Linked DNA regions of Homo sapiens: all the other regions are linked to region 2. Evidence: fine-mapped expression QTL. A gene starts in region 2. Each other region holds a variant in brackets. All regions are shown on one strand. Distances are from middle to middle.

Region 1 (2,751 bases), 38 kb before region 2:
CACTGCCACCAGCAAAAGCAGGCAGGGGTGCTGGGGGCGTCCTGATCTGTTAGCACGTGGACAGGGAGGCGCGGAAGCTGCCCCAGGACTCACCACCTCTTTTAATTATAGGGAAACAGTCCACTCAAGAAAGAGAGAAATAAAACCCGGGAGGATCTTTTTCCTTAAATTAAGACAAAGCCTTAAAGCCAACAGGGCAGAGCGCTGAAAACGGTTCTGCTTCTAGGTCAGGCAGGGGGAGGAACTCCAGGCCCCGAGTGTCTGGGCTTCCCGGGGGTCGTCTAATCACAATCACCACCGTGAGAATGGCCACAACCATGATTTATTAGGTTTTACAGATTCTGCAGGGGACTGGGTTCCACAAACCTCCAGACCTGCTCCTCTTTCCCACCCTACCCCACCTTCCGCAGGGAGCTGCATGGTTCTACAAAATGGTCCACTGGACTCTGTAACTGAAAAGCCACCTGGCAAGGGGCCCACTCTGATGGGTACCGAAGGGCCTTGGAGTGTTCTAGCCACAGAGCTGTGTGCAGGCCCAACAGAGGGCCTGGTGGGGCTGAGCTAGGGCCCCCGATGGGCAGCTTTCTACCTTAGGTCCAAGCTTAGAACCTGGCTCTTGGCCAGTCTGCGGAAAAATAACTCACGTCCTAAGCTACATCTACAAAAATTGCAAAGGCTGAGTACAGCCAGCATCTCAGGCTGAACTTGCTGCTGCACGAAGCGGCACGGAGGCACCCCACTGTCTCGCCACCTCACCTTTCAGGATGGGCCAAACAATGAATTTCTTATTCTTTTAGGAGAGGTCTGATTTTGATAAATTATTTCTAATTTAATATCACAGTGCATATCTCTCCTCTTGTCAAAGGTCTTCGTGATCATTTTAGTGAGAAGAAACAAAGAAAAGTGGGACAAACAAAGCTGCCCAGGACCTAGTGCTGGCAGCCGGCTCATGGTCCACATGCGGATCTGCAGTAGGGGTCAGCTGGGGGCCCTCAACCAGCACCCTGTTCCTAAGCACGTCCAGATGTATCCTCATATCCATGTCCCTTTTGGCAGCTTCCTGGTCAACCTGAACCTACCCTTCTGCACAGCCTCGGGTGGCTGCTGAGGGCAATGAGTGAGCTGGGGCCACGGGTCAGCAGGCAGGCAGGGAAGGGGGCTTCAGGAGGCTCATCTGGTTGGTCCGAGCCAGAGCCATCACACACAGCCTCCTCCTCAGCTTTATCTCTACAGGGACCTCTGCAACTCTGCAGCGGCCACCATGGACATTCTGCAGAAACCAGGCCCACTGGAGTCTGCAGCATGGCGCCAAAGGCAGGCCCAGCACATCCCATGAGCTACGGAGTGCGGGCAGCTCTGAGCCCTCAGCCAGCACAGGGACATCAGACCCGTTCCCCCTGCTCCCCTATGCAGGGCGCCACCCACAAGGTCTAGGACACGCAAGAGACTGACTTCCCATGGTCCACATGTGGATTCC[G/A]TAGTCTGGCTGCTGGCCTCCCAAGGGACCCACAATGGTCCACGTGTGGATTCCGTGGCCTGGCTGCCGGCCTCCCAGGGACCCACAATGGTCCACGTGTGGATTCTGTGGCCTGGCTGCCGGCCTCCCAGGGACCCAACCCTCCTGAGCCAGAGGGTCCCTCTGGTCCAGTCAGTCCTTCCTCCAGGGACCTAACGAATCTGGCTCTGCCTGAATCATCGATGACGGGGCAAAGGCGAGTGGGGCAGATGGGAGCTCTGGCAAACACAGGAGGAGGGGTCGTGGGAGAGCCCCCGTCCCCAGTAGCTGGGTGCTCACACATGCACAATCTACTCTCTGACTGTGGCTCATTGGGCTGGTCCTATCATCTGTGGTTCTAAAGGTCCAAAAAGGGCTATGGAAAGGACAGGTGTGCTGGAAGGAATGTGGAGAACGACCTCAAGATGGGAGGGGGGAGACTGGCCCCATCAATCCAGCTCAGAGCCCGGGAAAAGTGCAGGAACACAGACAAATAACCCCAACACGGCGAAGGACACACCTCCGAGAACCAGAACGGCAGCGTCCACACGACGAGACGACCAGGCGAGAAACACCGCGGAGGACACGGTGTCAACCTCGGAAGGGGCCTCCTATGCTTTCCACACCAAATTCTCCCACGGGAGAAACCCTGCCACAAGGCCCAGGAAACCACAGACCCCCAAGCCAACCATGCCCAGCACAGACACCAAGGAATGACAGTGACGCCGGTGACGCCAGGAGGACGCGGCCCCGCCTCTCTTCTGGCAGGTGAGATCAGAGTCCTACTGCAGCCTCAAGGCTGGGAGCACAGAGTGTGGACCAGACCCCGAGGCCAAGACGGTAACACAGCTCTGCCAGGCAGCACCTGCCTCCGGCCCCTCAAGCACAGGTAGGAAAGGGGCAGCCCCCCTTCTCCTCGCCCACCTGACCGGCTGCAGTCACCCCTCACTGGACCAACCTGACCGACAGCCCTGAGGCAGCTCCACCGTGCAGTTCACGCGGTCATGCCGCGGAATGTCCACAACACAGACATGGAACAGAACCCCATACATGCTATTAAAAAAGGGAAAAAAACAGAAGACCGTAGCTACACTGCTTTAAATACTGCATGCTACGCACTTCGTGGGTCAAGGGTCGACGCTGGGTGGGCGTGGAGGCAGGAGGGGCCCCAGCAAGGCCAGGGCAGGCAGGAGGCTGCCTTCCCATCTCTGTGACTACAGTTCATGATTCTAAGGTTGGCGTGGCCAGGCGCCGGC
Region 2 (2,751 bases):
TGCTGGGCCAGACGCCAGCTGGAGCCACCCCGAGTCCTACAGCACCGACACAAGTGAAAGGGGAACTCAACCGAAACTTCCCCAAAGCCCTTAGATCCAGGCTTCTAATTTCATCTCTTGTTTGACAGACTACTCATTCCTGAAACTCAGCTGACATTTTTTTAAAAAGAGAAGCAAATAAACGAACATAAAATCTCAGAAGCTTTGAGTAAACTTTTGCCTTCAGGTAACCATGACAATAGTGGGAGCAATGTAACTGTTTTTGTCATTAGAATAGGTTTTTCTAAACAGGCAAATAAGGGCAGACGTGTCTAACCACCATCAAATCTTCCCAACCAAGCCTAAGCCGGAAAACAAAAATAAAGCTGAAATTTTTGCTTCCTTTTCCTGTATGACACAACTGAATGAATTTGAGAAATCATGGCTTCGGCACACGAAAAAGAGAGTCTTTAATCCAGACACTTAACACCAACAAGTTAGAACCTGAACGGACGAGTTCCTAATACTCTCCTTAAGAGTTCAATATAAAGCATGGCTTCAAATGTTTTTATAAAGCGGAGAAAACAGGTTTTTTCTAACAAACCAAATGCTTTTTGGAATTTACAACGTCGGAAAGATTAATTTACGATGCGTTACAGAACAATTTTCAATTCCCCGAGCTATAAACACAACGACCCAGGGACTAAATTATCTGCCTCCCTAAGACCAGCGATGGCCCAGCTTCTCCAGTCCCCCCGCAGGAGAGGAGACCCCGGGGGGTTGGGGGCGGCCGCGGGGACCTGGGGGAGCGGAGGGGGCGTCCGGGCCCGAAGAGACCCGCGGAGAGCGCCGCCCCAGCCCCCACCACGGTGCTCAGACCCCCGGCCCGGCCCGGCCCGGCTCCCGCAGGCCCCGGCGCCGACCTTCCCGCGCCCCCGCCCCGGCCCAGGCCGCGGCGTCGCAGCAGCTCCGGCCCCGAGCGCCCGCGCAGCCCCGGCCCGGGGGTCGCCGCCATTTCCGGCTCTGGAGTGCCGCCCCCGCCCCCCACCCGCGCCCGCCCGCCCGCCTGCCCGGGCCTGACGTGGGCCGATCCGCCCGCCCGACCCGCAGCGAGCTCACCTGCCCGTCCGCCCGCCCGCCCGCCCTCCCGCCGGCTCCGCGGCTCCGCTCCCCGATTCGCGGCGCTGCTGGGCAGCGGCCGACGCACTCCTCAGCCTGGAGACCCCGGGCGGCGGCGGCGGCGGCGGCAGAGGGCGCGGGTGCGGCACCGGCAGCGGCAGCGGCAGCGGCAGCGGAGACGAGCACGCTCACGCACGCACCCGCACCGGCGCGCGCGCTCCCGGAAGGACGTGGGCTCCGGCGTGTCGGAGCCGCGGGTGGGACCGGCTGCGCATGCGCTCAGAGAGCCGAGCGGAGGCTCCGTCCATGAAGGGGCGGAGTCCCGAGTGACAGCCCGGGGCCGAGGCGCCCTGTGGAGGCTCCGCCCATGAGTGGGCGGGGACGAAGCGCGGGGGCGGAGCCAGTCCTCCCAGTCTTCAGGTGGCCGCAGGTGGGTCCCGGGTGGACACGCCATGTGCTGCGGGGAACCGCGCAGAAAGAGAAGCGCAGGGCTTGCTGGTCTTGCAGGTGAGTTTACTCAGCGCTTTAAGTAAGACTGAGAAAACGTAATCGTTCTCATCAAAGAACTGAACAGGGAGCTGGTGGGAGACGGCTGCGGACCGTCGCCCCCGCCCCCACCCGGAGCCACCGTCCTGGGACTGACATTTGCTCAACCCTGGAGCGCCGAGATGGGACGTCCTTCCTTCCTTCCTGTCCAACCACTGAAATGCCGTCGCCAGCGCCCTCCCACCCTCCCGGAATCATCTCCAAACAGCAGCGTGGAGAGGCAGGACCACGAACGTCCACTCCACCTCCCTCTGCCCTTGCCCATCCCGTCGGCCACCCTTCCCTGTCCCTGTAACTGCAGGCGCTCCGCCACTCACTGACGGCCTGCCCCGCGTAGGCTGCCTGGGCCACTTCCCATCCTAGAAGCTCCCAGACCTCTGCGGCCGGTGCTCCTGCCTCCTCGCTTCCACCCTTGCCCGTTTACCTGAGTTCAGTGCGGTCATCTTTTTAAAACAAACCCAGTAGCATCCAAGGCTTCCCGTGACACACTGCGTGAAACCCAAATTCTCTCTCAACACGCTCTGGCCTCCTTCCTCTGCCCTCATAACTCACTGCCATAATGCCGGTCTTGAATTGCCAAGCTTGTTCCAGTCTCACAGCCTGGAAGTGTCAGAGCTTGGGAAGCCTCCTAGCAGTCATTAAGCTGCGCAACATCAAGCAGGCAGCAAGAAAAGGCCTATGGAACCCAAGAAGCAGAAAGGCCAGGTTCATATCTACAACTATAGATTCCAAGAGAATGAAATATTTCAGGCCAGAATTGGAGGGATGAGAGAATGAAATGGGCCTGGTACCGATCTCAGATTGAAGCTATATTCCACTTGTGCTGGGAGCTGCAAGAATGAATGAACCAGCCTTAAGTGAGTCCCTCTGAGACCTAGCAGTTCCACTTTAGGGACATTCTTCCAAAGAAAATATTCCTAAATACAGAAAAAGGTATATGCACTGAAATATTCATGAAGGCACTATTTTTAATAGCGAGAATGGAAACCTGCCCAACTGCACAAGTGAGCACTCAAATGGAATAATATAGTTACTGAAATGTATACAACGGGACCCATGGCTCACGCCTGGAATCTCAGCACTTTGGTAGACCAAGGCAGGAAGATC
Region 3 (2,751 bases), 34 kb before region 2:
CCATCCTGGCTAACACGGTGAAACCCTGTCTCTACTAAAAATACAAAAAATTAGCTGGACGTGGTGGCGGGCACCTGTAGTCCCAGCCACTCGGGAGGCAGAGGCAGGAGAATGGCGTGAACCCGGGAGGTGGAGCTTGCAGTGAGCCAAGATCGCGCCACTGCACTCCAGCCTGGGAAACAGAGCGAGACTCCGTCTCAAAAAAAAAACAAAGCAGCCTCCAGGCTGGGCACAGTGGTTCACGCCTCAACTCCTGCAGTTCTGGAGCTGAAGTGGGAGGATCACTTGAACCCAGGAATTCAAAGTTAAAGTGAGCCAGGATCTCACCACAGCACTCCAGTCTGGGCAACAGAGCGAGACTCTGTCTAACATTAACTAAATAAAAAGTACTTTATAAGGATTCTAGTGAGGAGGCCGACCAGTCAAAGCCAAATACAGGCTTCTCACAAATGCCATGCAGTGATTCCAACCCTCTGGCCTCATATATGACATTTGGAACAAAACGAGGAAACGAAGAAATGCGGATGTAACATCGAGGCTTATTTCCTCCTGTCTCACGAAGGACTGGGAGCCATTTACAGAAGAAACCCTGGCGGCTCCGCACGGCTCTTCCCTGGGACAATCTGTACGCTATGGCTTGTTCCAGGCAGGACACCAAGCCAGTGACAGAGCTTCGCCCATCACACAGGTGAGGAGAAAGGCTCCATATGCCCAGAAGCCTTTTCTCAGGAGTGTAGAGTTGCTGGCATCAACGCATGGGCTCTGCAATGCTGGGAACCCTGCAGGCGTGGAGTGACCCGGGTGCCCACATGGCAGGAGAGACTCGGGTGCCCGCACGGCAGGAGTGACTCGGGCGCCCGCACGGCAGGAGTGACTCGGGTGCCCGCACGGCAGGAGAGACTCGGGTGCCCGCACGGCAGGAGAGACTCGGGTGCCCGCACGGCAGGAGTGACTCGGGTGCCCGCACGGCAGGAGAGACTCGGGTGCCCGCACGGCAGGAGTGACTCGGGTGCCCGCACGGCAGGCAGCTCGCCCTCACCTTGGCCCACCAGCTGGACAGCACGAAGTAGGTGTTCACGTTCTCTTCCCCAAACTGCTCGGCCACGTAGAGACCCAGCGAGCCGTACTTGTCGTAGATGTTCCTTTTTGTGGCGTCCGTGAGGATGGCGTGCGCGTTGTTGATCTCCTTAAACTTGTCCGCGGCCTCCGGGTTGTC[G/A]GGGTTCTTGTCGGGGTGATATTTCAAGGCAAGCTTCCTGCAAACCAAAACCATGTCCTGGCTCTACCCTGGACTTTGTTCCACCCGCACCCGCCGCCGCGTCCATCCCACCCGCACGCACTGCCGGGTGCAGTGGAAGGCAGGTCCACCCAGGCCACCTCACTGTCCGACTCTCCAGGGCTGCAGGGGCCAGGGACAAAAGCAAGCTCCGCGGTTGTTTCAGGTAAACCTCCTCACCCTGACCCAGCCTCAGAGGAGGGAGCCCCAAGGGCTGTGAGTGCCACGGCACATCTAAGTTCAGCGGCACCAAGGCCAGCCCTGGTGTCCCAGCCGCTAACTGCACAAGTGCCAAGTGAACGGTAAGCACGGCGGGGCGTAATGATGGCACTTTAAGAAGTGTTTTATGAACTACACGATGCTAGCACACGAGAGGAGGACTATCTGAATTGTCTGGATTAGTGATGGTGTCTCTTACAGGTTACTCAATGAAACTGTACCCAAGAGTGCAGTTCTTCAAGCTCAATCAGAAGGCCACAACAGAGTGAGGGGTCTCTGTCATCACTGTGCTAAAACAAGGAGACCACAGGACCATGCCAGCGCTCTGCGGCTCCTGTGAGGCCTCAAACAGGTTCAGACCCTGACTCCCTATGGAACTGTGGACAGTGTGTCAGTTTCTACTAAGTGCTATTTTTTGTTGGCAAGAGAACATGAATACCATAACTTTAAGCTATAAGGAGCACATTACACATACAAAGGTGTTACCGAGCTGTGACCAGTTCAACGCTGAGTCGGCCAGGATAAAGTATGTGCAATGGTTCTTGGTAAAATGCAGACTAAACCACACGGGGCATGTGTGTCTTCCTGGGGGGATGTGGGGGCCACACTTGTCCACTTACCGATAGGACTTTTTAATGTCATCTGAGGTTGCGTTCTTGTCCAACCCAAGGACGTGGTACAATGACTCCCCAGAGGTAGACAGTGAGCGCTGTCTCTGGTCTGCCATGTTAGGCTATTCTAGAAGAAAAAATAAAAAGAAAGTATCACAAAGTATAGATGAAAGTACCAAGGGCAGAGCTGATGGACTTTATTCCATAAGACCGTTCAAAGCAAAAGAATCCAACACTGCCTTGTGGAGTTTGCCACGTGCACAGACAGACGCCATGGCATGGAGAAGTGTGAGACGGCAGAATACGGCCACCCCAAGAGATCCTGAAGAACTGCAGCTGTGTACTGTGGGCCGGCACAGGGGCTCACACCTGTAGTCCCAGCATTTTGGGAGGCTGAGGCGGGAGGACCGCTTGAGCCCAGGAGTTTGAGGCTGCAGTGAGCTATGATCACTCCACTGCACTGGAGCCCAGGAGACAGGGACCCTGTTCCTTAAAAACAAATATATAAATAAACAAAATAAATTAATTAATTAAAATAAACATGCATATTGTAATCCTTACAGCAACCTCTGCATAAAAAATGCAAAGAGGTATAAGCTAAAAAGTTACAAGAAAAATGAAAAAGTAACTCAACACAGGAAACAAATA

Evidence for each region.
Region 1: its variant is fine-mapped to the expression of DNAJC5 in whole blood (TOPMed, PIP above 0.99).
Region 3: its variant is fine-mapped to the expression of DNAJC5 in whole blood (TOPMed, PIP above 0.99).

What each region holds. Positions count from the first base shown.
Region 1 is chr20:63,931,598-63,934,348 of GRCh38, reverse strand. It overlaps DNAJC5 (DnaJ heat shock protein family (Hsp40) member C5), which reads right to left. Exons shown (of 5, transcript NM_025219.3): 5 at 1-2,751. Among named protein-coding and RNA genes, the nearest start is that of MIR1914, 8.6 kb to the left of the region's middle. RefSeq lists an enhancer at 1,612-2,113. The variant G/A (reference allele first, on the strand shown) is at 1,478.
Region 2 is chr20:63,893,671-63,896,421 of GRCh38, reverse strand. It overlaps DNAJC5 (DnaJ heat shock protein family (Hsp40) member C5), which reads right to left and starts at 1,296. Exons shown (of 5, transcript NM_025219.3): 1 at 1,099-1,296. RefSeq lists a silencer at 1,215-1,454, enhancers at 1,454-1,981, 1,914-2,083 and a cis regulatory region at 1,998.
Region 3 is chr20:63,927,814-63,930,564 of GRCh38, reverse strand. DNAJC5 (DnaJ heat shock protein family (Hsp40) member C5) reads right to left here. Exons shown (of 5, transcript NM_025219.3): 2 at 2,113-2,230; 3 at 1,040-1,253. The coding sequence starts at 2,219. Among named protein-coding and RNA genes, the nearest start is that of MIR941-5, 9.3 kb to the right of the region's middle. The variant G/A (reference allele first, on the strand shown) is at 1,217.